3 separate regions of the Homo sapiens genome follow, and regions 2 and 3 are each linked to region 1. The links come from fine-mapping of genetic effects on gene expression. A gene starts in region 1. Each other region holds a variant in brackets. All regions are shown on one strand. Distances are between the middles of the regions.

What was found.
Region 2: its variant is fine-mapped to the expression of MCTP2 in lung (TOPMed, PIP 0.91).
Region 3: its variant is fine-mapped to the expression of MCTP2 in whole blood (TOPMed, PIP above 0.99).

The regions. Positions count from the first base shown.
Region 1 is chr15:94,225,468-94,235,841 of GRCh38, reverse strand. It overlaps MCTP2 (multiple C2 and transmembrane domain containing 2), which reads right to left and starts at 4,281. Exons shown (of 23, transcript NM_001385001.1): 1 at 4,178-4,281. RefSeq lists a silencer at 4,222-4,351 and an enhancer at 5,887-6,026.
Region 2 is chr15:94,475,159-94,485,532 of GRCh38, reverse strand. MCTP2 (multiple C2 and transmembrane domain containing 2) reads right to left here. Exons shown (of 23, transcript NM_001385001.1): 22 at 8,740-8,837; 23 at 1,581-6,567. The coding sequence ends at 6,499. Among named protein-coding and RNA genes, the nearest start is that of LINC02852, 110 kb to the left of the region's middle. The variant C/G (reference allele first, on the strand shown) is at 5,237.
Region 3 is chr15:94,163,949-94,174,322 of GRCh38, reverse strand. It overlaps the pseudogene H3P40. Among named protein-coding and RNA genes, the nearest start is that of LINC01581, 61 kb to the right of the region's middle. The variant C/T (reference allele first, on the strand shown) is at 4,569.

The DNA.
Region 1 (10,374 bases):
ATCGATGAAAACTCTCCCAGGCAAGATAAAAGAGGAAGGTTCTAAAACCAGACAGCCTGTGCTTGAATCCCGGCTGAACCACTTTCCAGCTGTGTGACTACGGACAATTTCCTATTTCTCTTTCAGTTTTCTCACATTTAAATCCAGTTGATCATAGCCCTGCGTTACCCAGGGTTTGTACCGAAGATTAAGAGTTAATATTTCTTAGCAAAATGCCTGGCACAACCTGAGAGCTCAATAAATGTTAGTGATAGTAATACAAATTATCATATTACAACACTAATATATTACTATTATTATTAATTTCAGTTCCCTCCCAGTGATCTCCATAAGGGATTCCATGCCCTATCTGTTCTCTTAAATATTAAGACCAGTGGTTTTCAGATTTTAGCATGCACCAGAATCATCCGGAGGGCTTCTTAAAGCACAGATTACTGTGCTCTAGACGCAGAGCTCCTAATGCGGGGTGCCTGAGAACGTGCATTTCTAACAAGTTAATCTCAGGTACGTAGGTGCTGCCGGACTCGAAGAACATCAGTGGAGGAGAATGAATGAGTCTAAACCACCAGGGATTTTTTTTTTTTTTTGAGACGGAGTTTCGCTCTTGTCTCCCAGGCTGGAATGCAATGGTGCAATCTTGGCTCACTGCTGCAACCTCCGCCTCCCAAGTTCAAGCCATTCTCCTACCTCAGCCTCCCAATTACCTAGGATTATAGGCACTGCCACCACACCGGACTAATTTTTGTACTTTTAGTAGAGATGGGATTTCGCCATATTGGCCAGGCCGGTCTCGAACTCCTGACCTCAGGTGATCCACCCAACTCGGCCTCCCAAAGTGCTGGGATTACAGGCGTGAGCCACTGTGCCCGACCACCACCAGGGCTTTTAATGGCTCTCTGCTCACTTAGAATGACCCTCCTGGACTCCATCAGAGTAACTCCAAACTCAGCTCAAGCCATCAGGAACCCTCCAAGGCCCCTGTGGCATCTCTATGCAAGCCTATAACAAAGCACTGTGATCAATGAAATCAGCTCCATGAGACTGGGAGTTCTTGACAATCAGGACTTCGCCTTACTCAGGACTTGGGACATTAGAAAACTCCCAATAAATGGTGACTGATAGTTGGAAAAGCCAATGGCCAAAGGCATCCCTGAGAAACAAACCAACCTGGAAAGTCTTGAAGACCAGCTCTCAGAATTGTTCGTTGGACATGAGTGTCCAGAGTGTCTCTGCTGTCCCATCCAGCAGTCTCTTCTCTGCTCAGTGGAGCATGAGTCCTTTGCCTTTAACCACAACTTTCCCTCTCACTCTTTGAGGGTAACAGAGCTTCAACTTTGGGCTTCTCACTAGCAGGGCCCCCCGTGGGTGTGACAAGCTGCTGGGAAATGCTGAGTGTTCTCAGGGAGAGGGGAAGCCGGATTGCAATCAGCACTCCTGTTTTTGTAAGCATTTCTGGTAAATTGCCCAAGATCTCCACAGAAACAGGCAGAAATCTCCAGTAAATTATCATCTCTTTTTCTCATTTTAAATACATATTCACTTTCACACCTAATTTTGTATTAATTTTCTTAAAGAGAGTCTCCAAATTGTTTACCTTTTAGGCCTCACAAAACTTGGAACTGCCCCTGCTTCATATCCCCTACATACTCTCCTCCTTCATCACCCACCCTGGTTCCCCATGAGAACACCTTACCAGGTCAGGCACACTTTTATAAACACCTTCTAGGAAGGACTTAACAGCTCAGCTCCTAAAGAGGAGTTTAAGGTGTCTGGCTGTTTCACCTCCACGTGAAGATAGAGGGAAAAAAAAAATCTGTGCCAAGATTGACGCAGGCAAAATATTCTACCTGATCCTCGCTTCACGGGCAAAGCCTTTTCTCAACAGTTAACTGGCAACAATTCAAGGTAATTTAAATATAAAACCCCTTCCATTTCTGTGTGTAATTACCAACAATTACAAGAAAAGTTTTAAGAAAGCAAGTGTTTTCCACAACAAGAAATATTATTTGAATTCAGAGTACTATTTTTCACTCACTTTCCATTCTCCACAGTATAATAATTTTAATTTGAAAATTACTTTCCTGGTTTACATGCACTTAAAGAAATTGTCAGTTGTTATAAATCCTTTATGCAAAAGTCAAATAAGGAACTTGATTCCTCGCCAGATCATCACATTGCAGTACTCTACAATTTCCAGAAGTAGTACTTCTGGAAATAGGTTTAAGGAAAAATATATATTCGTGTGTGAGCACAGGTTTACACAAACACAAAGTCCTTTCCAGGTGACAAGAGACCGCTAATCATCTTGCAGCTGTAAGAAATCAAGCTGAAATTGATTTCAAAGCCCACTCAGCTGAGAAACTCACCTCTGCAGGAGGAGACCATAGTAAAGCACACCAATAATAGGAAATTAGCTGTTCCTTCCATGTATAACACAGAGAGAATATATATGCAATTTTATTAATTGGCCCTGTTTGGATATATCAGGCCTTTCAAAATATGTTAAGAGACATAATAAATTTTATCTTTTAACATATTTTGAAAGGCCTTTCAAAATATGTTAAGACACATAATAAATTTTATCTTTTAAAGCTACATCTACTAGTCACAGATAGGTCACAGCTTGACCACACAAGTGCAATGAAAACAGTGCTCACTTCATTCCTGAGGACTACTTTAACTCCATTAATCCCCAGGAGATAGGATCTATGAATATAAATTTGAATTCTTATATTAAATCTGCCGGATTTACACTCTCCATCTTAGAGACAGCATGGAATAGTGAAAAAGTACGAGTTCTGCACTCAGAAATAGCCACATGCAATTTCTAAATTCACCACTGACCTTGTACAAATTACTGGACTCCTCTCTGCCTCAGTTCCTTATCTGCACAGGGGAATAGTATCTACTTTGTAGATTTCATAGACAAGACAAAGTGCCTAGCATGGTGCTTGGCACAGAGCTAATTCTTAATAATCTTATTTTAAGCATGGTTTTGACAATTTTTATTGCTTTGGAATGACTGATCAGGCTAATGACAGAGACTCTTCAAAGATTTACATTCTCCCTGCATTTAAATACTTATAACCAGCGATTACACAGGTGCTGCTGAGGCAAAGCGCAGCACCATTGGTCTCGTTCTAAACACCCACCTGTGAGGAATAAGTGCCTTAAGATTCCCCTTTGTATTAATATCAACACCTGTGCTACCCAACAGCACACCAGCCCGGCTCTCAGAGGTCTGCCCGTTAACAGGTGTACAATAAATATTTGTTGAATTGAAATGCTACTGACTCAAGCAAAAAATGAATGCTAATGTAAATTATAATCCATACAAATCCTTCAATAAGTGGTGTCTGAATTCTGTGCGTCCTGAAGCAAGTGTTCTAACGTCTCACGGTTCACTGAGAAGCTGCTTGGTACCTTAAGGGTTCGCACCCTTGTACCTTCCAGACCAAGCTCTTGTAAGCATCTAGAGGAGGCTGAAACCCTCAGTCAGCATCGCACAGAAGTTCATTCAGACTAGAGAAAACCTCTTTTATGGCAACCCAATCATTTAAAAAAAGCCGTCAGCACATTTGCTTAACAAATGGACAGTGCAGGAGGGAACTAATTGCGGAAACTAATCGCCACTCAAGTTCACCACCAACATCACTGTCTTTATTTTTAACTTACTTATCTTCAGTGGGATTGAGACACTGTTTGTTACCTACGCAATTATCCCAAGGATTTCTGCTCCGGTGTCGTTGAGCAAATGTCAGCGCAAAGAATTAAAGTTGAACCTCCGGGTCTCTACGAAGAGAGCGTATTAAAGCCCACCCAGCTGAGGAACTGACCTCTGTGGAAGGAGTCCTGGATGTGGCGGTGACTACCTCCGTAGCGCCCCGGGGAGACTGAATGTGTGGCCTTTAAAATGCAAAGAAATTCTGGGCCAGGCTGCCCTCCCCTAGTGCGCCTTCCAGTACGCCACGCCTGGATTTCTGCCTCCAGTCCTCAGGACACCTTTCTGATCTCTGAACCACAAGCAGCTCCGGGGTAGTAGCGCCACTGAATTCTCATCCTGGACCCTCCAGCTCCCCAACTCCCAGCTTCGGTTGAGAGAAGACGCCCACCCCCAGGCGGCGACCGTGCTGCCCGGCCCACGCGCGCTGCCAGGTGAACCCGGCACCGCCCTCACCTGTGCGAGGCCGCGTTCGGGGGCTGCAAAGCTGGGCAGGCGCGCGCCCCTCACCTGCACCGGACCCGCTGCAGTCGCCACTCGGAAGCGCAGGGAGCAACCCTGACGCGGCGGGGGCGGGGGCATCACCGAGGGCCCCCGGACTTCCTCGGGCCCCCCCACCGCCCTTGCGAGCCCCGCCTAAAGGGGAGGAGGCGGCCGCGCGTCACCTTTGAGCAGCCTCCGACCCAAGCGCCCGCGCTGCCGCCGGGAGCTCGGCCGGGTGTTGCAAGGAGGCGCTATGCTTGGTGCTGGGCACTGGCTGGGCGTAGAGAAGGCGATTACTTGTAACTCATTCGTTTGGGTTGGCTCACAGGAAAAGGAAGGTGTGTCCAAAAAGTCCGAAGTGAGGAAATAGGACGAGGATGGCTTGCAAACTCGTAAAGTCTTAATAAGCTGTCTTCGCTGATACTCAGAAGGGTTCTCTTCGCTCCTGTAGGTCCCTAATAGATTCATGGGAAGACAGCAGCCTCCCTTTGTAACGCCCTGACCCTGGGAAGAGGTACCCGAGCCAGACAGCCTATTAACCTATGCCACGTGTGCGCGACTGTGGGTGGAAGATGCCCGCCCAGATCCACAGAACTGTTTCCTGAGCCTTGGTGCCTCATCTATGAGATAAGGCCGGCGTACTGCTCAGCAAGCCGTCCCGAGTACTCGGCAGAGAACCCTAAAGACCCTCCCGTGCGATTGTTGGCACTCAGCGAATATTTGCTATTTATTTCCCCTTTCCCTTACTTTCTTTTTCTACTTTTTTTTACGCCGCTTTCCTGCTGTAATTGTCTTATTGCACTTTGTTTGCTCGGTTTCACTGCCTGGTCAGTTTCTTTTCCCGTCTATGAACGAGCCTAAGTCTGTGCGCTCTAGGAATTTGGGTGGATTAGGAAAAGAAATGTATGATCCATGCCTTCTGGGAGATCAGGGACTCATCTCTGGGAAATAGCATTTTTAAATTAGATACAAGAGAGTTACAGAAAATAACCTTAAAACGGGAATGGGACCTCTGGGAATAGGCGAGCTCTGAAATGAAGCGTTTAGTTGGTGTCACTGGTGATTAAGAGCTCCGGCTTTGGAGTCAGACCTCAAATCAAATTCTGCCTGGGCAACTAATTGTGTAAATGGACGAGTTCACTTAACCTCTCTAAATTTTAACTTCAACAAACTGGTTGTTTAAATAGCTTAAAATAGCTTAAATAGCTTAAAATAATAGCTATCTCATACTTTCTGAGAAATTAATTAGGTAATTCACATAAAATCCTCATTACAGTGTCCTGGGCCATGGTAACCACTTAATAAAAGTTAGCTATTAACAATACTAAGGTAGGAAATGGGAGGAAGGGGCATAAAAATTTAGAAAACATGAGGACGTGATAGAAAACAGCTGCCACTGTCATGCAATTCCGACTTACAACAATAGCTACCACTGAGGAACACAACTTCGCACCAGTTTCTGTGATTGGCATGTAACACGTGATCATATTGAATTTTCACAAACCAGGAGACAGTTAATAAAATCTCTGATTCAAGATGAGGAAAATGAGCATCAGAACCATGAAATAACCTGCCTGAAGCTATGAGTCAAGTTAGTAGCCGAGTCAGAGCAAGCTGAGGCCTATGGCAAAATTGGCTTTTCCCACCGTGCCGAAGGTTACATCCCCTAGCAGAGAACAGAGAGAGGTAAGGGTAAAACAGCATGAAAGGAAGAAGAGAAAGAGCAGTAGGCAGACGAAGCAATCATACCTTTAAAGCTGACTAAGAATACAAATGAATTAAAATAGTAAGTGAACCCACACAAAAGCTTTTTTGCCTTTAACTCCTGCCCCAGTGGAGTTCCTGTTCTGTGGTTCCGGCAGTCCAACCGCATTTTTCAATCATTAAATGGTATAGAAAGTGAAACAACTAAAGATACAGAAATCTAAGGTCACAACTTGCCCTTCCCACCACAATACACTCATCTGCCCAGCTTCCTGGGTTTTTTGTTTTTAATTGTTCAAACATATTACCTGTCTCCTTTTCTATGTTCCACCCAGGAAATGTCCCTTCCAGGGAATAATATTGTTGCTTATACCAATTTAACTTTACTACATAACCACACCAGCATTTAGAATGGCAACTGGACTCATACATGTAGCTGATAAATTTTTAACACACTTTTGTTATATTGAATTTCTCTAAACAGATTTTGAACCAGGTCTTACATTATAGGCACTGGTCAGTGATGTCATAATTATACTTAAAAAAAAATAAAATCTCCTGCACGTATCATAGGCAGCTTTCTCTCTCTTCTGAGCAACCAGATATTTGGCCTCTGAAGAAATGCCCCTATTGTCAATGTGATAATTGAGGTGGAGATTTCCCACTTTCAGATACAATTGCTTTTATATCTTAGACAATGTATGTTTGGTTGCATGACAATCTAATATTGGCACCTCTTCTTTTAAATTGTAAATGGAAGATGTGTCTTCTGAAGGCCCAGTGTACTCCTTGGCTATCATGGCTATACTGCCTGTCATACATGCAGAAGCACGGTTAAGTGCATACAAAGGCTAGATAACAATTAGTGCAGTTATCTAGCCACGTCCCTGTGCCTTTTTGAATGAGCCAGAGTATTTCAAATGAAACAAATGAAAATTGCTGTAGCCACCCAGAGTCTTTGACAATGAGGGTTAAAGCAGTCTTCTCTAAAGAAGACAAGACCCTGTCTGTAAATGCATAGGATCTAGAGTTCCATATCTTCTCTGCTCAGTGGGAGCCTCCTTGGGTCATCCTATCAGAGTTGGCCATGCAGTCAACACAGTCTGGCTCCATTTGGAGGACACAGAGCTAATCTTGCTGGGACAAGTCCCTTTATGTCAAAGAGAAAGCTGTCTGAGATCTGCTAGCAGTAATGTAAGGGCTTGGCACCTAGCTTCCCTCACATTTTCCTTCGTTGGTGCTTCTCATCATTTCTGGGCCGATAAGAGCAGAAGTAGAAAAATGACTGAGACATAAACATGTCAATTTAGATCTACCAGGGGTTAAAACGAATATAATGGTTAAAGCAAACTTCAGTCTATTGTCCAAGTAACAAATGTTTATTTTAGTGTGTGCTTTAAGGAAGAATATGCACTCTGTTACGTGGCGTTGAGAAATGGTACTTCTTTTATTGTTAGTGCAAATAGTCTTTGTTATTATATGTACTCAGGATTTTTTTTCCTTTGGTATAATTATCATGTTATCCCCTTTTTATAGGCAGGTGTGGAGAGACCAAATTTAGTGACTCACTCCAGACCTAGCTCTGCCACTTACTAGTTACGAGTTTATCCTGTAGGCTTCACTTTCTTGAACAAAAGAATGGACCTAACAGAAAATGAGTCCTATTCTCTAATTATTCAGAAAGACTTCTTATAAAATCTCTTTGGAAATCAACATCAGCATTGAATTGTCCTAATGATGATTCTATGTATCAAGTTCTTTTCTTTCAAATACCTAAACATGTATTTAACACAAGCTGATTAGCTGGAAATGTTCACAGGTAGTAAGTTGTTCAAAGATCGACTTTTATGGATGTTGTACCTTTATTGGGTGGGAACTTTTATGGCCAAAATGAACATCTGGTAGTGGTTGCTTCTGAAAAGTTAAAATTATTAGAGGCTTGGAGTTAACTCTTAAGAGACTGAGTCTGCCATTCATTAGATGGGTAAAGAAGAACCAAATTTACTTCTTCAGATGAAGGTTAACTTTGCCCAAGATTACTATCTCAGTACCAACATTTTTGTCTGACGATCTGAATTTCATTCAGTTAATTGCTTAAAACTTCCCCTAGGCCAGGGGAGAGGTTCATACTGTAGAGAATTTCTGTGGCCCCAAATCACATTTATTGAATTGTTCTCTAGTGTGTTGTCATTGGCAATAGTGGGGGGTATCTTAAGAATCTACCTTGGGAAATACGTTGTTGAACATACATTTGGCATGTTGGTCGGGGTCATTGTTTTTTAAAATTACACTGCCTGTTTTAAGATGATCCAAGGTAGAAGTTATCACTCATCTCAGATACAAAAATCTTGAGCTTTTCCACAACAAATGGTTTGTTTGCATCTTATGGGTTCTGCAAATAACACAGTTGAATTTGTTTTCCTCTCTAATTGAGCCACTAGAATGCACAGAGTGGCTCACCTCTGGCAAGTATTCAGAAATGCTTATTTGTGCATTGCACATTACAGTTATCTGTTTTTCTACCTGTATTTTCCAAAATGAGAGATGAAACTAGGGGAATTTTCAGGACAAGAATATTTAGATAACAATCAATTCTCCATGCAAAATAAGAAGTACATTCATTGATGTATTCATTCACATAATTAGCATGTATTCATCATCTACAACCAGGACCACAAACTAGGGTGCCTACATGGGTGAGACTGGTGAAATAGAGATTGACTGTGGTCACATATAAGAAGATAGAGACTGTGGCAAATAGCAGAGAGTAGGCCCACCTAAAGACATTCAAATTTACTTATTGTTAACCCTGTGCTGGCTAAAAAATACAGGTGGCCGAAAGCCTGGCAACCAGTTTGAATCCCCTGATCCATATATTAAGCTCTGTGATAAACTCTGTGGATATAACACAAATATGATAGCTTCTGCCCTCCAATGGCTCACATTTTCGCTAGATGTGTAAACAGATAAACACAATAGAGTGTCAGAGTGAAGAGGCCTTGATAGTAGCACCTGCAGAGCCCAGCAAGTGGTGTAAAAAACCAGGTAGAAAATACACCAGAGAATCAGCAGAAACCGGGACCCCAGTCAGTCCCAAGTGATGAAAAAAGGGAGTCTTCATGGGTGAAACCTGGCTTACACAATTGAGATAAGTACAGACTCAACTGGCAGACAAAGATCAGTTCAATAAATGAAGCCAGCCATCTAGCAGTATTTCCATAATCTTAATCAGAAAATCAAAATATAGACAAATGTGGAGAAATAATAACTATGTCTATGGCTGAGGACATTAACAAATTTTGGACTTGACGTCTCCAGTCTGTCTTTGTGACTGGTTGGGATGTATAATTTGCATAAGTTTTCATTCATCCAGTCTCCCATTACTGCCTCTAATGATAACCTACAAAGAAAGTACAACATCACTAATTAATGGATTGAAAAGTAGTCAGGAAATAGACAAGGTCTTATTAAGTGCATAAGGACATTTGCAAACCAACCTGGTAGGCACCTGCCTGCTTTACTGATTTTTTTTTAGGCACGTCTTTGTAGTGACAATTGTTGCCACTTCCTGAAAAAATCCAAAGTAGAAAATAAGACAGTAAGTAATCTGACCTTAAGACTAAGTTAATTTCTTAATTTCTTAATTTCCAGTATGTGCTAAAGTTTTTCATTTTTCCTACTGAGAAATACCCAACTATAATGAAAAATTACACATTCTCTAAAGGGCTTGTTCTTTTAAAAAGTAAACTTTGATTAGGTTGAACTTCTATTCAGCTGACTTTAAAATGGAGAAGAATAAGGAAAACCTAATTCAGTCAGCACAAAAATATATTTTAGATATTTTAAAGGGAAAGGAGTAGCTTCATTTGTTAATATCAGACATCTTCTCAGTTGTAGTTTAGAACTTTCTACAGTGACCTTTGCATCCACCTTCAGTGTGGGCTGTGACCTGCCTCCTTATCCCTGATGGTTTTTGGTGAAAGTGAGCCCTACTTCATTACTTTGCAAAATGTAGTTCTATTCCAGCACCTCTCATCTGAAAACCCTGGCTTTATATTTCAAACTATGTGTACTGCTTTCATACACATTCATTGGCAAAATATGCTCAAGGAATCCACAAAACTATGAACAGAATCCTGGCTATGTGTTCATACAGCAGATTAAACTATTCTGGGTCTCTGTTAAGTTTTGTGTCTGTAATGCCTCGTTTCTGAAAGACTATCTTCTCCAGCAATGAAAACCAATCACTTCTCTTGAGAACCAACCAAATCCCAACATCATATTGTTGCACCTGAACATATTATTCGTATTTTAGTACATCACTGAAATACAATTTTGTTAAGCAATATTTCTTTGAGAGCTGGAAGTAAAGTAACAAGGAGTAGGCTCAGAGATCCACATTTAAAATGCATGTGGACACATTATCCTGCTGGCTGCCCATGTTCTAGGTAGTTCTAAAGTGCACA
Region 2 (10,374 bases), 250 kb before region 1:
CCACAGTGGTGTTGGCAGTGGTTGTGACAGGCTGGGCAGGCCAGTCCCCAGGCCCACAGGTGACACGTGTATGTGTGTGTGTGTGTGTGTGTGTGCTCATTGTGATGGTAGTGGCAGGTTGGGTGGCCCCAACTTCAGGGCCCTTGTTGGAGTGCTCAGGTGCCAATATTGGTGGACTGGGCTGAGTACTCCCCAGGCCTCCAGATGCCATGATTTGATACTAGGGGGTGGGGGTCAGAGCTAGGTCCAGTGGACTCATCCTCACATCCTTCAGTAGTGCTTGCAGACACTGACTATGGAAGGCAGGGGCGGTGTGACCCCAGGCCCCAGAATGTTCATGTTGGGGTGGCAGCAGCTGTACTGCACCCCTGGTACAGGGGAGAATAGAGTCACTTTCAATGGCAGCAGTGGCACACAAGTGCCTGGGAAGTGTACATTTCACTTGCCTTTGGCCCCAGTTGAGGCAGCCCACTGCTATGGCTGTCACCTGGTGGATTTGTTGTCCTTAGGGTGATTAAAAGCTGCACAGCAGCTTCACAGTTGGGAGCAGTGTGGTAGCTGCCAACAGCTCACACTTAAGCCCTACAGGTAGCAGGCAGCTGGAGTTGTGGCTGCAGGTGAAGCATGTCATTGGGGTTCCAGGGATATGAAGATGCAGGGGCTGTAGGGCCCAGGACAGAATGCAGTCTGGTGAGGGCTGAGATATCCAAGTGACAACTTGCTGTAGCTGCTTAGGACTTGGGGGTGTGTGGGATTATGTGTGCTCCCTCTCTGGGGCAGTATCGTCACACGGTCTTCAGGTAGCTCCCTATGTTGGTCTGGGGGCTCACAATAGTCTAGGGGCATTCCTATGGCTGGAATGTGGGAGTCTGTAGTGGGAACGTTGATCACTAGGAGTCACCCACTTACTCTTTTCTCATACTGGGAAGCCTTTCCTGGCTCCTAGCCTATCCCACCTGAACAGACTGTATTGCTTTCTTTCCCTTCCTTGCTTTAGGTGTTTCCTGTCACTTATCTGTAGAATTCCAGCATTCTCTCTTATATATGTGAACTGTGATTATCTACTCATTATTGTCTGGTCAAGTATCTGGAAGCCTCACTGATGTTTTCAGTGTAAAGACTTCTGTATATCTTTCACAATTTTGTATCTTCATAAGGGATTTTCTTAAGTAGTTTTCCATTCTGGTAGAACTTAGTTGGTTTTGAAGGAGAGTTATGTTGGCCTCATAAAATGCTTAAGAAAGTGGTTTTTTTTCTTTTGTTATTGTCTAGAAGAGTTTGTATAAGAGCGACAGGTTTTTTTTTTTTCCTATAAGTATTTGGAGAAATTTCAGTTTTTAGAATTATTTTGAATGAGCAATTATATCTAAAACACTTAGAAAGTAACTGGCATTTGATAAATGCCATAAAATATTAGTATTCTTGTGTGCTTGAATATCCATTTTCCTGTGTAAATCATTACATAAATGCTAGGACAGAACAGCTGTGGGCTTTACACAGAGGTAACATGCTTGAAGCCATTCCTTTAGAAGTCACCCTTCAGGATTTCAGCATTTATTCAATTATCAGTTACTACTCAATGCATTTTCAGGCAATTTTTATTTTAATTTTTCAACTGTTCCGTTGTCACAAGATTCCTAATACATAAATGAGAGGCAGGTTTTGATAGAACATAGTTTTTTTTAAAGTTCAGGGGTAACTGTGCAGGTTTGTTACATAGGTAAACTGTGTCAGAGAGGCTTGTCATACAGATTATTTCATCGCCCATGTATTAAGCCTGGTACTCATTATTTTTCCTGATCCTCTTCCTCCTTTCACCCTTCACCCTCCAATAGCCCCCAGTGTATTTTGTTCCCTTCTACATGTCCATGTGTTCTCATCATTTAACTCCTACCTATAAATGAGAACATGTGGTATTTGGTTTTCTGTTGCTGCATTAGTTTGCTAAGGATAATGGCCTCCAGCTGTATCCAAGTTCCTGCAAAAGGACATGATCTCATTCTTTTTTATGGCTGCATAGTATTCCATGGTGTACCTCTACCACATTTTCTTTATCCATTCTATCAATGATGGGCATTTAGACTGATCCAGTGTCTTTGCTATTGTAAATAGTGTTGCAGTGAACATGTGTGTGCATGTGTTTTTATAGTAGAACAATTTATATTCCTTTGGGTACATACCCAGTTATGGGATTGCTGGGTCAAATGGTATTTCTGTCTTTAGGTTTTTGAGGAAACACCCACCCTGTCTTCCACAGCGGTTGAACTAATTTACACTCCAACCAACAATGTATAAGTGCAGAACATAGTTTTCAATAATGAATATGGCTAACTCCATCTCAAGCCCATGAAGAATTTTTTGCAGCTAATAGGGTTACACTGAGGTCATGACACCTCTGTTTTCTTACTAAAATAATCCCAAATATCTCCTTTCATTCCAAATTCCAGCCCTCTCTCTCTCCTTTCTTCTCCACAGTGGAATTTTTCAAGGGTTACCTCCATTCAGAGGCCCCATATTTTCACATCCACTCACTTCTCAACCCAGCGTGGTTTCCATTTCTACCATTCCACTGAAATGGCTTGTTGCCAGGGTGCTTCCAAACTGTCAAACCATTAAGGTCATGATTCTGTACTTATGTGATCTCAGCGGCATTTGATATTATTGACCACATCAGCTTTCTTGCAGTATGCTCTGCCACTGAATTCTAGGACAGTCCATGCTTACTGTTTTTCTCCTCTGTATTTACCCGTTTCTATTTACACTCTTAACTGACTTGCCTTTCTATATATGACATTAACTGTTGAGTTCTTCAAGGTTTAATTTCTTGAAGCATGTAGTTTTGATCACTTTTCATATACAATGTTTGCCTTTAACTTGTGTACATCTCAAGTACAGTGTGTTACTTCTCTGAGAACTATATATTCCATTACCTTGCTGACATTCCTATTTGGATGCTTTTCAGTCACCTGAGATTCAGCGCTAAAACTGGACTCCTGTGGTCCTCTCACAGCAGTTCTTACAGTTCTCTCCCTTAGTGAAAGGTAACACCATCTTCCTAGACCTGGAGACCTAGGGACTGAGAGCCATCCTTGACTCTACGCTCCCTCATCCCATAGTCCAGCAATTGTTAAGTCCTGCTCACTTTATCTCTTCACCATCTCTCAATTCTACTTACTTTTTTCCCAGTGCCACTATTTGAAAGTCCAGGGTGTTATTCATTTATCAGGAGTACTACAAAGGGCTAATATTAATAACTTCTCTAAACTTTGAAAATTGCTAGGCTATCCATTGCAGCTAGAATATTTTTCAAACTTAAATCTGAGCATGGCATGCTGTTGCTTGAAAGTATCTGTTTAATGTCTGGCTTTACCAAGGGAATGTAGTCTGTTTTGTTCCAGAAAATTATCGGCATTCAATATAGACTTGTTAAATGATAATTTACAAGTAAAGAAAAAAGAATCCAGAAGATTGTTTTACCACCTAGAAATAAACATTATATTTTCCTCTGATATGTAGGTAAGAACTTCAAATATAAGACATAATTTAAAAGTTTATAATTGACATAGTCAGGGATTATAAATAATATCACACAAAATAAGCTCTTAATGCAAGAAATGAATCTCCAGGATAGATCATACTAATCTATCCAATCCAGCCCTCTGTTCTGAAAGCAGCACATGAAAAGGCAGAGAAAGAAAAATAATCTCTACGACCTGGCCTGTTAAACATGTATTTATTTCCTGAGTAACTATTAGGTGCTAGCTGTAATGGGCTATTCAGTGGAGGACAGTGGTCAAAGCCTCTTATGATGTATGGCAGATGCCAGAAAGATATGAAAGATGTGATGGTACAAAAAAGGAAGTTGGAGTCACATCCAGCCACAGGACTAACTAAGCCTCTTTGGGGCAGGAGACTTTGGAAGTGTTGAAGGAGAGTAGAATCTATTCAGAAAGAAACAACTGGGGGCAGGTCCTTCCAGTCTGAATGAAGATTAACTAGGCATAATGTAACTGGCATCATGGCCGTGACGTCTGAGAGGTTATGAAGGCCTCCACTTGGGTGGTGGAAATCAGAACAGAAGTGGTTAATGCATTGACACTGGACCTACTAGGCTTTAGGGGTTGGGAGACGAGGACAACAGCACGAGGAACAAAAAAAAAGAGGATGACCGAGAAATTCCAAGCCCAGAAAATGCCAGTCCTGGTAAGGGAAATAAGGAAGCTGGAAGGAGATTATGAGGGTTGGGGTTCTGAAGACAGGGAGAGACAGATGATGTTTAGTTTCTGACTTGCTGAGGTGTAGATGCCTGTAAGATAGAGAGACAGGGCTAGAAATGGGAAGATAAAGTTTGAGAAGGGAACCAGGAAAACTTGGCAAGACTTCAACATCCCTACTTAATTATCACACTGTGAATCCACAATCGATAAATTTTATCAAAAGCATTCTGGAATCTTTCCTAAAAGTTTTTGACAATTGTATAAATCTTAACATGTCACTTACAACTAACATTCCTTTCTAACAAACATCCAATGTCTACTTAATCAACTAACAATTGTTTTCTATATACAGTTTATTCAAGGTTGATTCGGTCCTGCTCTTACGTCCCAGCTGGTGTTTGGGTCCTAAACTTAACACTGAGAATTTCAATCGGGCTACAGAGGAAACAAGTCTAACTAATGATGCCTTCTTGTCGGGCAAATAATTTCATTTTGAAATTCTATAGCAAAAGAACAACAATAAAGTATTGGTTCCACTTTTAAATAAATAAGGGGTTATTTTGCTGCTGAAAGTTTTCATTCAAATGACTGATCAGATCTCACATGTCTGTTTAAAAATGTCTGACTTAGGTCGTTACAAAATGACAGACTATGATAAACTAGATGATAGTTAGAAGCAAGACAATGAGGCATTGTTTACACAGAAGATTGAGTAACTGGTTTAACAAAAGAGGTTCTTGGGTATCTATTGTATGTACAACTACGAGATTTACTGGAGCTTTTATAATTTCTGCAAGGCTCTTTTCCAGCCAGCTTCATTAACTTGAAGTAAATCAAATCATGCAGAATTCTGGCTCAGCCAGAAAGCAACCCAGTGAGATACAACATGAAGAAAAACAGACACGGGATGATAAGATTTAGAATCTTTGGCATTTTTCGTAAACATTTTGTTTGAAGATTATTAAATTACAACCCAGAGACAAAAAAAAAAAAATAGTGAACTCACTATTAAATGAGAT[C/G]TTTTTAACCTTAACTTTTTTTATAATACATACATACATAAAAACTGCACAAAGTATGTGTCAACAAAATACAGTCTTTAAAACTTAAATATCATTTAAACAGACTTAATTGCATACATTTTATATACGCACAAAGTCAGGATTTTTACATGGCAGGGAAATACTGTGGAATGATGAGGTCTGCAGGAGACAGATGCTATCAAATGAGGACTCTGGGGTGGTATTTTCTAGAAATGGGGTTCTGAAATAAATTTTTATTGTATGTAGCTTATTTTACTTCTAAGAGGAACAAAAGATACATTTGGGCAGCCAAAGTATTTCTACTTCCTGCTTAAAACATTCAGGCAAATGAAATGATTATAATAATTAGGTAAGCAGCCTTATTAGTCTCTCGGTCTTCAGTTTCTTATCTTTCTAAATACCTAGAGAATTTATTCATTCATTTCTCCCCTACCCCCACCTGCCTTTCTGAAATTATATGTTGACATTTTATAATATTTTGAAAATAAGCAAAAAGTAAAGTGAGAAGAAGTGGCATCAGAAGGCAACCAAATACTTTCATGGGACCCTCATTTTTCAAGTGAGTGATCTCTAGGGACCTTCCTGGGCCATCCATTGCCAGCAATGGACCCTGCTGTAGGCTGGCATCCAGCACCGAGAGGTTTCCCAAAAATTCACATACATATCCTTAATAATCATGGCTGAAAGATCCCTAAAGGTTTGAGCTAATTCTGGTAATTATTAAAAATGCCTTTTAATAATATACAATATTTGGACAGAGGATGACTACCAAAGACTTGTTAACTCTGAGAAGAGACTTACGCCCATGAACGATAATCTGAAAGGAGTGTGGGGCTGGGGAGCGGAAATAACTGAATCTTAATGAGAGTCTGTTGGAGGTGTGAAAACAAGTTCAAAGTCACTCTTGAATCCAAGTGGGCTCCTGGCTGTTCTCAAGGAAGGTGGTGTTCAGATCCATGGCAGCCTTGTTATCTCCTATTTCAGAATGGATGTTAGTCTTTCACAGTCTTGGGGTTGTTGCTTTTCGCTGGGCTGACCCTCTACGCAACTAGGACACCCATGCATGAGGGTGTGTGCACATGTGTGTATGTCTGTGCACGTGAAGGAGGAGGAAGTATACAGAGGGTGCCACAGGGCATGCATTTCAGAAGGACACCTTGGGTACCACTGAAACAGCCATAACATTGGTCTACTCAACCAAACACAATATTGGGTGCTGCTGTCCAAAGTCGGTGTGTGCCCTAGAGAGCGCTGCGCTTCTTCCGCAGGGGGCTGTGGCTGCTGCAGAGTTTCAATTCTGCATACTGCACCTGTGAAAACAAATAGCCGTGATGCTGGCGGTTAGGTAACCCTAGCTCGCCACAGTGTGTGCTAATGGCTCCCCAAGGACAACCGAAGGCAAAGGAAGGAAGGTTCAAAGGTAATGAATCATTTTCTAAACACAGGAACATGGAGGGATTAATTGCAGGAAGGATTTGAGAAGTCATGCATCATTTCTTGAAACCAAAATATTAAAAGCAGATTTTTCTAATGAGATGCGTGGGTTTCTACCTTCGCTGGGCACTGCTAGATGATGTTCGTTTTGTGTGTGCCAGTTTTCAACCATAAGTAAGCTTAATAACTGCCTCTTGGGAATGTTTATCTTAGTATATGATACAGCAACTTACTGAGGATTATTCGTTTAAAAATATCTAAAATCTTGGGGAAAACATCTCGGAAAATTATACACATTTACTTTGCCTGAGAGGAAAAAATGCTGAAATTGATACTGGACCCCAGACTTTTATATAGATTTCTCGTGGAAATTAATTTCATTTGCAATGTAATGACTAAAACATCTGTGATAAATATGAGTACTTGGGAGTCCCCAGTGGCAAACTGTCACTGTGTTATTAGAAAGCGCCCTTGGCGATACACGGAGGATCTTACTAGCATACTGTACATCTTCCTGGAATGTTCTTTTGCTGCATCTCTCTGTGTTCATGCCATCTCCAACTGGAATGGCCACTTTGAGGGCTAGTGACTGGACTCTGCACAGAGAATCCTTGGGGGCTTGAGGGAAATTTCTGTTCTTCAAGGATACAGTGTGAACTCACACTGCGACCCAAGTGATGGTACGTTGCAAATATATTGCTTTGGTGTGTGGGCTTTGATAGGCTGCTGGTGGAATGGCTTTATTTAAAACATTGTATTACAGACCACATGTGCTCCCTATTTTTAGCATTTGTGACAAATTCCCCAAGGACATTATGCCTGATCACAGAAGTCAGGCTGTACTTTGTCAGAGGCAGATAAATGAAGAAAACACCCCATTCCTTATGGTGTTTTGCGAAGGTGCCCTAAGGGAGCAGAGGATGACATACCTGTCAATCTTCAATGCAAAACAAACAGGGGCCGGGTTATTATTTTTTAATTAAGTAATACAAATGTTAAAGAGTAAATTCATCTTTCTAGAATGTGTTTTCACAGCTAATTATGAAATGAATTTTAAAGGAAGATAGCATCACAGAGTCCATTTTAATTTCTAGAACTCGGAATGAAGGGGAAAGAAACTCTAAGGCTTTTCCGCCCCAGATCTTTGAAATCCTCCCTGAGCTGCCAGGGAACCAATTATGCTACAGTGGCTCAAATATGAAAATCGATATTTGATTTGGGATTCTCTGAGATATTAAAGGATTGTGTCTTTGATCATCTTGATGATATTTCACGCCATGGTCTCCCCATCTACCTATTCAGTGATCTCTGTTCTCCATTAGAGAAACTGCCGCCTGCCCTCCTTCCTCTGGATTTATAGCAGGCTGATCCACAGGGGCCAGGATCGAGCTACTCTACACGACTTTCTAGTATTGTTGCCTTCGTTAATCTCTGTGTATCCACAGAAACAGGACACTGCTGGACTAGGTGACCATTATCTGTGAATAATACTTCTGATTGATCTCACATTATTTCACACTGCCTCTGCCTCTTTGTGTATTACAGTAAATGGGGGCTGCATTCTCAGCATCCCTAAGTCTTCAGAGGGAAGACGATAGAAGGGAGGCCTAGGAGATAAATCAGGGCAAATGAGAATAAAAAGAATAATCCTTTTGTCCCCTACTTCCCCTAAAATGCTTGCCACCCGGAAGAAGAAAATAAGCAACACTCCCTGGGTTTGGATCTCATGCAATTCTACTCACTGAGCCCATCTTATCCTCTTTAGGGAGGCAAGCAATCGAAAGGGGACAAGCATCAGTGCCCAGTAGCCACACAGTGTGAGTTCCAGATCATACTTAAGTAGCTCTTTTTCAAAACAATTTCCCCCAATCACCTCATGCTTTGGACAAAGATTTTTCTGCCACTTCTCTGCAAGCCAGGCCTCTTTAAGGATTTTCTGGTTCCTTATCTCAATTACTCACACAAGCAAAGCCTTGTGTTCCTCTGGCTCCGGGGCTGGCCAGATTTCAGGTTGGGGCCACTGTTGGTGGTAACCATTCATTACATACCTTTTGAACATCAGACGGTACCCTAGAGAGGAAGTCTAGTAGCTCATTATTGTCGATGGAATAGGGATTTCGAAGCTTCTTAGTAAATTTATTTATGCCTGAAAAATAGAAACACAGGAGATCTCTTTATCTGTCTGTCTGTCTATCTATCTATCTATCTATCTATCTATCTATCTATCTATCTATCTGTCAGTCAATCATCTATCTATCTAGCATCTATCTTCAAAAACTCGCCTGACTCGGGGGAGAGGGGATATTCACAAGTAAAAATTAGTGTGAAAACAATTACCAGACCTCAAGTCAAGCACATGTTGCTGTCATGTAGAATCATTCACAAATGCCTTTTCCTGAAGGCAGGAAGCAGGGGCTGGTGAAGAGGGGCTCTGCCTTCTTCAGCTGTGAAAATCCCATTACAATCCCAGCAGCAGGGCGACAGAAACACACGCTCAAACTGGGGAGCACGTTGGCTTTTTTGGAATACGCTGATTAACAGCCGCCTCTGCTATGAAAACAAATGTCCCAGATGGGAAAAGGCCTTCATTAGCCCAAACAAGTCCCTGCTTGGAGGCTCTGGACCAAACGTAGCAGTGGGAGGTAGAGGGCGGGAGTTGTTTTCTTGTTGTTACAAAGAAAACCGCAGTCATCTGTCTTTCCCCACCTCCAACTCATTTTCACAGGTTTCTCTCCTCTCACAGCAGAACAGAACCTGACATGTTGATTGTACTTTGATGCTGCAGGAAACTGTGAAAAGTTATTATTGGCAAATTATCTTACTATGGTTGCTAACTTAATTTATGGATCACAACGTCGGTGCGTGGGTCTGTCTGGGCAATGGAGAACATGCTAATTTAGGACAAGGACAAGGATAATTAGAAACGGGTTGAACGTTTAAGATGTCAACATCCTATAGACCGTCCCTCTTTGGTGGCTGCACCTTGGGTTCCCGTGCATATCCAGGACACGCTCTGCCCCTGGTTTACTCTTTAGAGGGGAGTTCCTCTCAACCACGTTTTGTCTTCTACTCTGCTCTTTGGAGCTGCTTTGACTATATCCGGAGCTCATAAGCTGTAGTCTTTTCACCAAATGTCAACCCGTTTTTCATGTTGAGTTTTAGAAGCAGAAAGACTAGGTGGCCTTCTGAAGTTTTGCCACAGGGTGCTTGTTTAACAAGGATCATATCTGAAGGGCTGTCAGTCCCAATGACGCTGAATGAATTCTTAGCTTCGTTGTACTCTGAATGGCTCCTACTCAGAAGTCAAGGTAACATTTAACTGTTCAGTAGTCCCCAACACACAAAGGGTTTGATTTTTTTGTTGTTGTTCATTAAGTATTATTTTGCTTTCATCTGAGGACTAGGCTTCCTGCATGGCATTATACCTGACACAATGCCAACCTCCAGTTATTTCTTTGGAGGGTCAGATTTACATCTGCTTTGCAAATGGGAGCCAGCCATTGTGCCCGAGTAAATGGTGGCTTGGCGGTTGGGCTGGTGAAGGTTCCTAGCAAATGATCGCCTTTCCCTCAAGTCAAAGCTGCACTCTGCCTTTTTTCCCTCTACCCCCACAGCAAGCTTCACGTTTCTAGCTAAAATTTCCCCCAGTGTTCCTTTACACTGAAATACTCTCACTGTGTTAT
Region 3 (10,374 bases), 62 kb after region 1:
TATGCATGTTTTATTCTAGCAACTCATGATCATAAGAGCCTTACTTTTTGAAGGAATTCCTGCATTGTGTGTCCTGGTGGGACACTGTGACTTGGGTGTCTCCCAAAGCAGGAGAGCAGGTACTCTTGAAAGTCATGGTGTGGAGGAGTGGGAAGGTGATGAAGGTTTGGCTGGTAAGACATGCACAGCCAAGCTTTTGAATCTTGGGGAGCGGTTGACAGATTCACAGCTTAAAGTTGTCACCAGCAGTAGCCTAAAGACACCAGTGTTATCAGCTTTAGTGTCCAGTGGCAATAGTACCAGTGCCCATGACTTAACCTCAGTTCATCCTGTGGTTTGAACTTGCCTGTGTTTTTGGATCCCAGTCTTTGTTGGTTTAGCTCTGATTATCTGGTCTTCTGTGAATTTTGAGAGTTAACCCAAGACCCTCCAAATACATTCCTTTTTGCTTGAGTTAACCAAATTCTTTTGCTGTGGTTTGCAGTATTACATTCTGATTAATAAACTCTATTTCTATGTTCATTCTCTCATTTTTCCCTCCTAATTTTCCAAGGCTAATTCTGCCTTTTCTGAAATGTTCCCACTTTGGGTATCGTTTTTCCCGTAAATATCTGCAGTACAGAACACCACTAACCAACACCCACTACCAGCACTTTTTTCTGCCCTCTGCTACAGGGCATTCTCCTGGCCCACCAGCTCTTTATTCTCTTACGCCTCCATCTTTTTTTTTTTTTTTTTTTTTTTTTTGGAGACGGAGTCTCGCTCTGTCTCCCAGGCTGGAGCGCAGTGGCGTGATCTCGGCTCACTGCAAGCTCTGCCCCCTGGGTTCATGCCATTCTCCTGCCACCACGCCTGGCTAATTTTTTGTATTTTTAGTAGAGACGGGGTTTCACCGTGTTAGTCAGGATGGTCTCCATCTCTGGGCCTCATCATCCACCCGCCTCGACCTCCCAAAGTGCTGGGATTACAGGCGTGAGCCACCGCGCCCGGCCACGCCTCCATCTTATTCCTCTTTCCTGTTTACATCCCTCTCTGGGTTTCTTCTTCCTTATTCACAAACTTCCTTTTTCACTAAACTGTAACACCTAATGCGCCAAATACAATGACTTTGACTAACTGTAGCTATACCCCAAGAACGACTGCTCTTCTCTCTCTTAAAGCACTCTATCTAACATAATTTATCATCTTAACAATTTTAAATTGTGCAATTTGGTAGTGTTAACTGTATTCGCATAGCTGTGCAATAGTTGTCCAGAAATTTTAATTGTGCACTGAAACTTTAGACTCATTGAACAAAACCTCCCTGCTTTCTGCCCCCTAGCAACCACAATTTTACTTTCTATGAGTTTGGCTTTTCATATACCTCATATAAGTAGAATCACACATTATTTGTCTTTTTGTGACTGGTTTATTTCACTTAGCGTAATGTCCTCAAGGGTCAACCATGTTGTAACATGTGACAAGTTTCTCTTCCTTTTTAAGGCTGAATTATATTCCATTGTATGTAAAGAACGCATTTTCTTTATTTATCCATCCATGAACATTTTGGTTGCTTCCAAATGTTGACTGTTGTGAATGGTGCTGCTATGAACGTAGGTGTGCAAAGATCTCTTGAAGTTCCTGCTCTTAATTTTTCAGACATATATTCAGAAATGGCATTACTGGATCATATGGTAATTCTATTCTTATGTTTTTGAGGACACTTCATACTGTTTTCTGCAGTAGGTGCATCATTTTACACTCCCACTAAGGAGTGTCCAAGGTCTCCAATTTCTTTGCATCCTTGCCAGTACTTGTTTTCTGCTTTTGTTTTTGTTTTTTAAATCATAGTCATCCTAATGGGTGTGAGATGGTATCTCACTGTGGTTTTGATTTGCATTTCTCTGTTGTTTAGTGATATTAAACATCTTTTCATGTGTTTATTGGCCAACTGGAGAAGTGTCTAGCTGAGTTCTTTGCCCATTTTTGAACTGGGTTATTTGTTTTTAATTGTTGAGTTCTAAGAAGTCTACCTATATTCTGGATACGAACTTATGAGATAGATGATTTGCAGATATTTTCTCCCATTCCGTAGGTTGCCTTTTCACTGTTGACTTTTTCGATGCCAAATAGTTTGTAGCTTTTATATAGTCTCATCTGTAGCTTTTATATAGTCTCATTTGTCTGTTTTGTTTTTGTTTCCTGTACTTTTGGTGTCGTATTCAAGAAATGAATGCCAATTCCAATGTCATGCAGCCTTTCCCCTATGTTTTCTTTGCGGAGTTTTAAAGTTTTAAATCTTACATTTAGGCCTTTGATTCACTTTGAGTTAGCTTTAGTATATTGTTTAAGGTAAGAATCCAATTTCATTCTTTTGAATGTGGATATCTAGTTTTCCCAATACCATTTATTCAGGAAGCTCTCCTTTCCCTATTGTGTGACTGTGACTCCCTTGTTGAAAATAATTTTACCATGTAAGCAAGAGTTTATTTCTGGGCTGCCTATTCTGTTTTATTGGTCTATATGTTTCTCTTTATGCTATTACCATGCTGTTTTGATTACTGTAGATTTGTATTATGTTTTGAATTCAGGAAGTATGAGAACTCCAACTTTGGTCTTCTTTTTAAAGATTGTTTTGACTATTCAGAGTCTTCTGAGATTCCCTATCAATTTCAGGATGGGTTTTGTCTATTTCTACAAAAATTGCCATTGAGATTTTGATAGGGATTGCAATGAATCTATAGATTTTTTGGGTACTATGAATATCGTTATAGAATTAAGTTTTTCCAATCATGAGCATAGGATGTCTTTCCATTTATTTTTATCTTCTTTGATTTTTTCAATAACGTTTTATAATTTTCAGTGTACAAGATTTTTGCCTCCTTATGTTTATCTGTTAATTCCAATATTTCTAGCATAAAGAAAAGATAAATATTTATGGTGATGGATATCCTAATTACCCTAGGATTATATGAATGTATCAAATTATCACAGGTGCCCCCAAAATATGTACATCTGTTATGTATCACTAAAAAATAAAATGAAATAAATTAAAAAAATGAAAAACAAAACCTTATTCCTAAGTATTTTATTCTTCTTTTTTTACATATTTATAATACTTTCAGCTCTTAAAAAATGTTCCCCGGTTTATTAAGTTATAACTGACAAAGAAAAATTTGTGTACTTGTGGTGTGCACTGTGATGTTATGGTATATTTGTACATTATTAAATGATTAAATCATACTAATTAACTATAATCTCACAGGCATATATATTTTTGTGGTAAGAACAGGTAAGATTTAAACTCTTAGCAATTCAAGTATTTATTAGGTTGATGCAAAAGTAATTGTGGTTTTTGCAAATACTTTTTTTTTTTTTTTGATGGAGTCTCGCTCTGTTGCCGGGCTGGAGTGCAGTGGTGCATTGGCAAAAAACACAATGACTTTTGCACCAACTTAATAATACATTATTATTAACTATAGTGGCCATGCTTTACAATAGAACACTCCATCCTTCAGCAGCAGGATACTATTCTTTTCAAGTACACATGGAACATTCTCCAGGATAGACCATATGTTAGGACACAAAATAAGTTTTAACAAATTCAAGAAGGTTGAAATCATACCAGGTTATCTTTTCCAATCACAGTGATATAAAACTATAAACCAATCACAGGAAGAAAATGGGAAAACACACAAATAGGTAGAAATTAAACAACATACTTCTGAGCAACCAAAGGGTCAAAGAAGAAATCAAAAGGAAAATTAAAAAATATCTTGAGACAATTGAAAATGGAAACACAACTTAGGGGATGCAGCAAAAGTAGACCTAAGAGGGAAGTTCATAGTGGTAAGCACCTTCATTATTCTACATTATCCTTTTTGATGGTATTGTAAAAGGGATTGTTGATTTTATTTCCTTCTGGGGTTTTCTGTTGTTAGTGTAGAGAAACACACTGAGTTTTGAGTGTTGGTTTTGTATCCTGCGACATTACTGGATTCATTTATTCTAAAATTGTTTTTGTGGACCAAACTTTTACCTTCTTCAATGAACCTTCTGCCCTTTATCCTCAGGTTCTGATTTATTCTTTGCTTTCTTGTTTACTATTTTTGAATCTAACAATGACTTGACAATTGAGTTAAAATCAGGAAACTGGAGTTGGTGATTGTTTGAAGGAAAGTTTATAGAGATTCATCTTCCTAGAAACATGTCCCTAAGAGCCTTTCCTTCCCTGAGTATTTTGTAATTGGCCCTCCTGATGGGGAGGATGAAAGACAGAAACATAAGGAAAGGAATAGAATAAGGGTTGTGAACAATTCTAGGGGAAAAGGACTATTAAAAAAATACATATAGGGCTGGGTGCAGTGGCTCATGCCTGTAATCCCAGAACTTTGAGAGGCCAACGTGGGTGGATCTGTTGAGGTCAGGACTTTGAGGCTAGTCTGGCCAACATGGTGAAATCTTGTCTCTACTACAAATACAAAAATTAGCCAGGCGTGGTGGTGCACACTTGTAGTCCCAGCTACTCAGGAGGCTGAGGCAGGAGAATTGCTTGAACTTGGGAGGCGGAGGTGGCAGTGAGCCCAGAT[C/T]GCACCACTCCAGCCTGGGTGACAGAGCAAGACTCTGTCTAAAAATCAAAAAGAAAACAATTGGGTAATTAGGCTAGGGGATGCTTTTGAAAGCATAGTCTCAGTTGTGACCTAACGGACTCAATGACTTTGTTCACTAACACATTCTGCCTTTCATAGCCTCATCCCAGTGCTTCCTTCTGAGTTACTAAAAGTGATTATTTGTAACTCTATTTTAAAATAAGATTTCATTGATTTAAGCATTGAACTAATTATCCTTAAATAATATATCTGTTGGACAGGCAGGTAGAGGAGAGTTCTCATTATTCCTGGTCATCACCATGCTTCCATCCTATTCTATGCCTTTATTACAACACTGCCCTATCTAGGATGAAATTTATCTTCCTGACCATGAAAATTTCTCCTGAGACTGATGTGATTGCTGAAGACATGCTTGCTGACCACGACCTATGGAGAGTTTTTTAAAAATAGTTTAATGTATTTTAATAGCAAACTTACAGAAACAACACAGAAGAAAGACAACATTAAAAAACACGTACTGCATGTAGGACAATTCAGTGAGAAAAGTCTAGTGAATGGATGGTATCTGTCATTTGATAAAAATGCTACAAACACCATTTAGTTGCTGTCAATAAAACATTTACTTATTTTTTTTTAAAAAATCCAAATGCTAGCATTGTTCAGAAAAAAAATAACAGGTTTCTTAATTGTTATAAAGTTTAACCACTGAGACTTCTTCACTGAAAGGTTTGACTTGCATTAATGCTTCATGTAGGGACATAAATGCAGGGCATTTATACTAACAGTTCACACACAAACGAACACAGAAAAAAAGTGTCAATATCTGGTTTCTGTCCTCTGTTTTTTCACTGGCAATCATATACTTAGTTACCTTTTGACCCCATGGAAAAAAAAATATCTAACATTCAGAACCACCAATAACAAGAAGAAGAGAATTTTTCTCAGAATGAAATGTTCCCATCATAGAGGATTCTTAAGGACCTTCTCTACGTATGAGATGTGCTAGCTGGACGACTTTTGGCATAATTGTTACACATTTGGCATGGATAGTGCACAAGTTGGTGTCTTCAAAAAGGCCAACCAGATAGCCCTCACTCACTTGCCTCCTGCAAAGCACCAATAGCTGCGCTCTAAAAGCGCAGATGTTTTCAAGTCCTGAGCAATTACGTGCATCAGATGCTGGAAGGAAAGTTTGCAAATCAGAAGTTTGGAGGACTTCTGATAAGGTCTGATATCATGGAGTGTCACAGTAACCAGGCCTGTAATTATGAGTTTTCTTCACCCTTCCAGGAGAGGGCGCACTACTGCAAGCAGCTTCCACAGCCGGTTGCTTCCTGGGGGCTTTGCCACTGGTTGATCTGTGGGCAGTCGGCTTTGTACCAGCCACGGTCTTAAAAACCTCCTTACTTATCCCCTTCTCCTTCAGCTGGGGCTCAGCGAGCTACAGGTGGTGCTGGCATTAGAGATTTTATGATTGAGGTGTACTGTTTTGAAAATAGAATCTCAGGTTTGCTTTGTCAGATAGGCCATATCTATTTAATCTGGTTGTAGAATCCATACCCATTCTCCAACATAGTTTAGAACTAGTTATTAACAGAGGTACGCAGGTAAAAAGATCTTTCTGTCAGTACCCTTAAGAGGAAACGTGTACACACACACACGCACACGCGCGCGCGCACACACACACACACACACACACACACACACGATACAGTTTAGTTCATGGAGGCCTGCGCTGGCCACCTCCTGTCTTATTGCCTTTGGTAATGCAATCATAACATCTAAACTTAGCTACTGCACTGATTTATGTATTGTAGATATGGTTCTTCTTGATGGCGAGCAAGCAGGGGCCCTGGCTTGATTAAGAGGAAAGCAGAGGCCTTACCTATCTCTTTCACCGCTCTGCCTCCCAAAGCCTAGCACAGGGCCTGGTAAAACTTTAGTAATATTCATAGACTCAGAATGACAACGTGAATAATGACTCTAAGAATTCAGACCATAGGTTTAGAACCAAGGCTGTGAGTTTAAGAGTTTTACCGTCTTCGAATAAAACTTCCTCTCCAATCCTGTGAGTGTTGAAATCATACCCCTTTTTAAAGCCTTGGGGGAAAAAAAAAGAGAGAAAGCCCTTATGTGTATACCACTCCAAATGAGCAGGAAACAGCATAATTATTTAATGTGTGTATTAGCCTGTTCTCACACTGCTAATAAAGACATACCTGAGACTGGGTAATTTATAAAGGAAGGAGGTTTAATGGAGTCAGTGCCACATGGCTGGGGAGGCCTCACAATCATGAGAGAAGGTAGAGGAGGAGCAAAGTCAGATCTTACATGGTGGCAAGCAAAAAAAGAGAGCATGTGCATGGGAACTCCCCTGTATAAAACCATCAGATCTCGTGAGACTTATTCACTATCACGAGAACAGCACAGGAAAGACCCACCCCCCCCCATTATTCAATCACCTCCCACAACAAGTGGGAATTATGGGAGCTAAAATTCAAGATGAGATTTGGGTGGGGACACAGCCAAACCATATCAGTGTGCTCAAAGTAATAACATTTCTTCAGGAACTAGCCAGGAACTTTGAAAAGCAACAGATTTTCTTCACTCTACAGCTGCATGACTATGTGCAAAGTACAAAATGGAAAATCATGAAACCCCAAAGAAGAACTTGACGTCAGGGCAGATCTGAATTCAAATCCCTGCTCTTCCCCCTGGATTCATCATGTCTTTTTCCAGCCTTCCTTTTCTCATCTGTAGAATGGATGTGCTAATGTACTCACTTTTTAGAGTTGTGAGATAATTAAGCACTTAACATAATACATGTTAAGTGTATTAATATGTGTGTGGCACATAGTGAAAGTCCAATGTATGTTCGTTTTTTGTCAATTTTTAGTTCATAATTTGGAAATTAGCCATGACAATGATATTTCTGGTTGTTTTAAGGCATGAAATAAACATGTAAAATATCTTTTTGGGCTATTGCATTGATATTGGTCACAAGATGGATTGATGTAGATCACAAGACCAAACTGGGTTAAAAAAAAAATCTAATATGAGCCTGCTTTTTGTTTGTAAGTATATGGAAGAAATAGTGCCCAGAATAAAATCGGAACAAGGTGGAGGAAGGATTCATTCACACAAAACATTGCAACATTATTTAAAGTGAATCTCGGAGGCAGTGGGTTTTTTTTTTTATTTTAGTATTTTTGTGTGGGTGTGAGACGGGGTATCGCTCTGTTGCCCAGGCTGGAGTGCAGTGGCACTATCTTGGCTCACTGCAACCTCCACCTCCTGGGTTCAAGCAATTCTCCTGCCTCAGCCTCCCGAGTAGTTGGGATAACAGGCACGTCCCACCACACCAGCTAATTTTTGTATTTTTAGTAGAGACGGGGTTTCACTATGTTGGCCAGGCTGGTCTCGAACTCCTGACCTCAGGGGATGCGCCCACCTCAACCTCCCAAAGTCCTACTGAAAGGCGAAGACAGCTGGACCTCCTGGATCCAGTGGGGACTTGGGGAACTTTTCTGTCTTACAAGAGGTTTATAAATTCACCAATCAGTGCTCTGCAAAAATGCACCAACCAGCACTCTGTAGCTAGCTAGAGGTTTGTAAAATGGACCAATTGGCACTTTGTAAAATGGACCAATCAGCGCTCTGTAAAATGGACCAATCAGCAGGACATGGGGGGAGGACAAATAAGGGAATAAAAGCTGGCCACCCCAACCAGCAGCGGCAACGTGGTAGGGTCCTCTTCCTTGCTGGGGAAGCTTTATTCTTTCACTCTTCATAATAAATCTTACTGCTGCTCACTCTTTGGGTCCCTGCCACGTTGAAGAGCTGTAACACTCACCAGCAAGGTTCGCGGTTTCATTCTTGAAGTCAGTAAGACCACGAACCTACTGGAAGGAACCAAATCCGGACACACTGGGATTACAGGCATGGAGGAACCAACTCCGGACACAACGGGATTACAGGCGTGAGCCACGCCAGGACGAGGCAGTGGTTCTTACACTGTAGTATGCGTTGACTAAATAAATGGTCTCTTAAAATACAGATTGCTACCCTGCCCCCCCCCCCGCCCCCCAGCCACCACTCCCAAACTCCCCAGCCATTTCTGCATTTATGGTTTTGGGTGAGTCCTAAAAATTTGCCTTTACCATAAAAGGTTGATATGGCTGGCCTTGGGACCACATTTTGTAAATCACTGCAATGGCAGTAATTCTAAGCCTTGGTTGCGTCTTGAAAGCTGGAGAACTTTCAAAGATGCTCATGCCTGGGCTACATCCACAGAAGTTCTGGTTTCATTGGTCTGGGGTGGGGTCTGTTTATGAGGAGTTTCAAGAGCTTTCCGGGTGACCTAAATGTGTACAAGTTAAAGATAACTTACCTAGGATATATCAGAAGTAGTGTATTTTAGAAAAGAGCCATTCGATTATGAATTTAATAAATATGAATTGAGTACCTACCATCATTCCAGCCCTGTGCTATGTAATGGGAAAACAGATATAAATAAGAACGAAAGAGGAAGATTGCCACATTGATAGCTGCTAGAGTGACAGCCTGCCAATGAGCTTGTGCACAGAAGGCTGCTAAGATGGTTGGGATGTATGTGGAAGGCTGTGAAGTTCAAGTGAGAGAAGGTTTCACTAAGGAACTTGAACTGAGTTTTGAGGGATGAGTGAGCATGATGTTTTATGAGCAGAGAATAGGGGAAGGACATTTCAGAGAGAAGGCAGCCATAAGTGAAGGCCCGGAGTTGGGAATGGACACAGTATGTGTTCACGGGCTGCAGCCTGGTGTAGTGGTGCAGAACAGGGTAGGAGAAACAGGCTAAGATAGATTTCCATGCTTAGACTTATCCTATGGGATTTGACGGGGTATTTGAGGGTTTTAGGAGGAAAGTGATAGAAATAGATTTCATCAAGTACATCAAGAGGTAGGAAGATCTACCTGAGAAACATTCTCCAGATAAATGGGCACATAGAATAATCAGGACACCAGCTTCCCCCCGCCTTTAGCTAATCCGTCAACGTCTGATTAGAAGTGCAAGGAAAAGGGGGACGCATTTCTTTTCACTGCAAGTAGAGCTGTTTCAGACTTTGGGAATCTTGGGAGAAAAAGAGTAAATGCGGAGAGAGAAGACATCAGAGAGGAGAAGAAGGAGAAGGAAAGCGCAACAGAAATGACACTGTGATTCAAATCAGTTCAGAAACAGCAAATACAAATAAAAGAAGTGAAAAAAATTTCTCCAACTGCCCCTGATCCTCTGAAACCCTTTCCCAGTGAGGCCAAAGGCCACATACAGTAGCCTGCACTGCCCCCTGCAGGTAGAATACAGAAACGGCAATGATTGAATCTGGATTTTATTCTCAGCTTCGGAGAAAGCAGAGGTAACAAGAATGTGCCTTGTGTATCATCAATCTGCCCTCCAGCTAGGCCTGCGTATTACTTCTTTACTGTTTACGTTTAAGCCTAGTTTTTTTAATTACCATTTTTTTGTTTACATGTAAGCCTAGTTTTCTACTTACCATTTTTGTTGTTTACATTTAAGCCTAGTTTTTAATTACCATTTTTGTTGTTTACATTTAAGCCTAGTTTTTTAATTACCATTTTTTCACGGCTCTTTAAAAACACTTTTTTCCTCACATTTTACATCTGAAATTAGAATGTGTCTTGGAATCAGTTTAATTGACAAGTTTTTTTGTCTTTTCTTTATGATACATGACAGAGCATCTCACAACTGATGGCATCTTAGATTTGGCAATATTTATTTTGCATATGT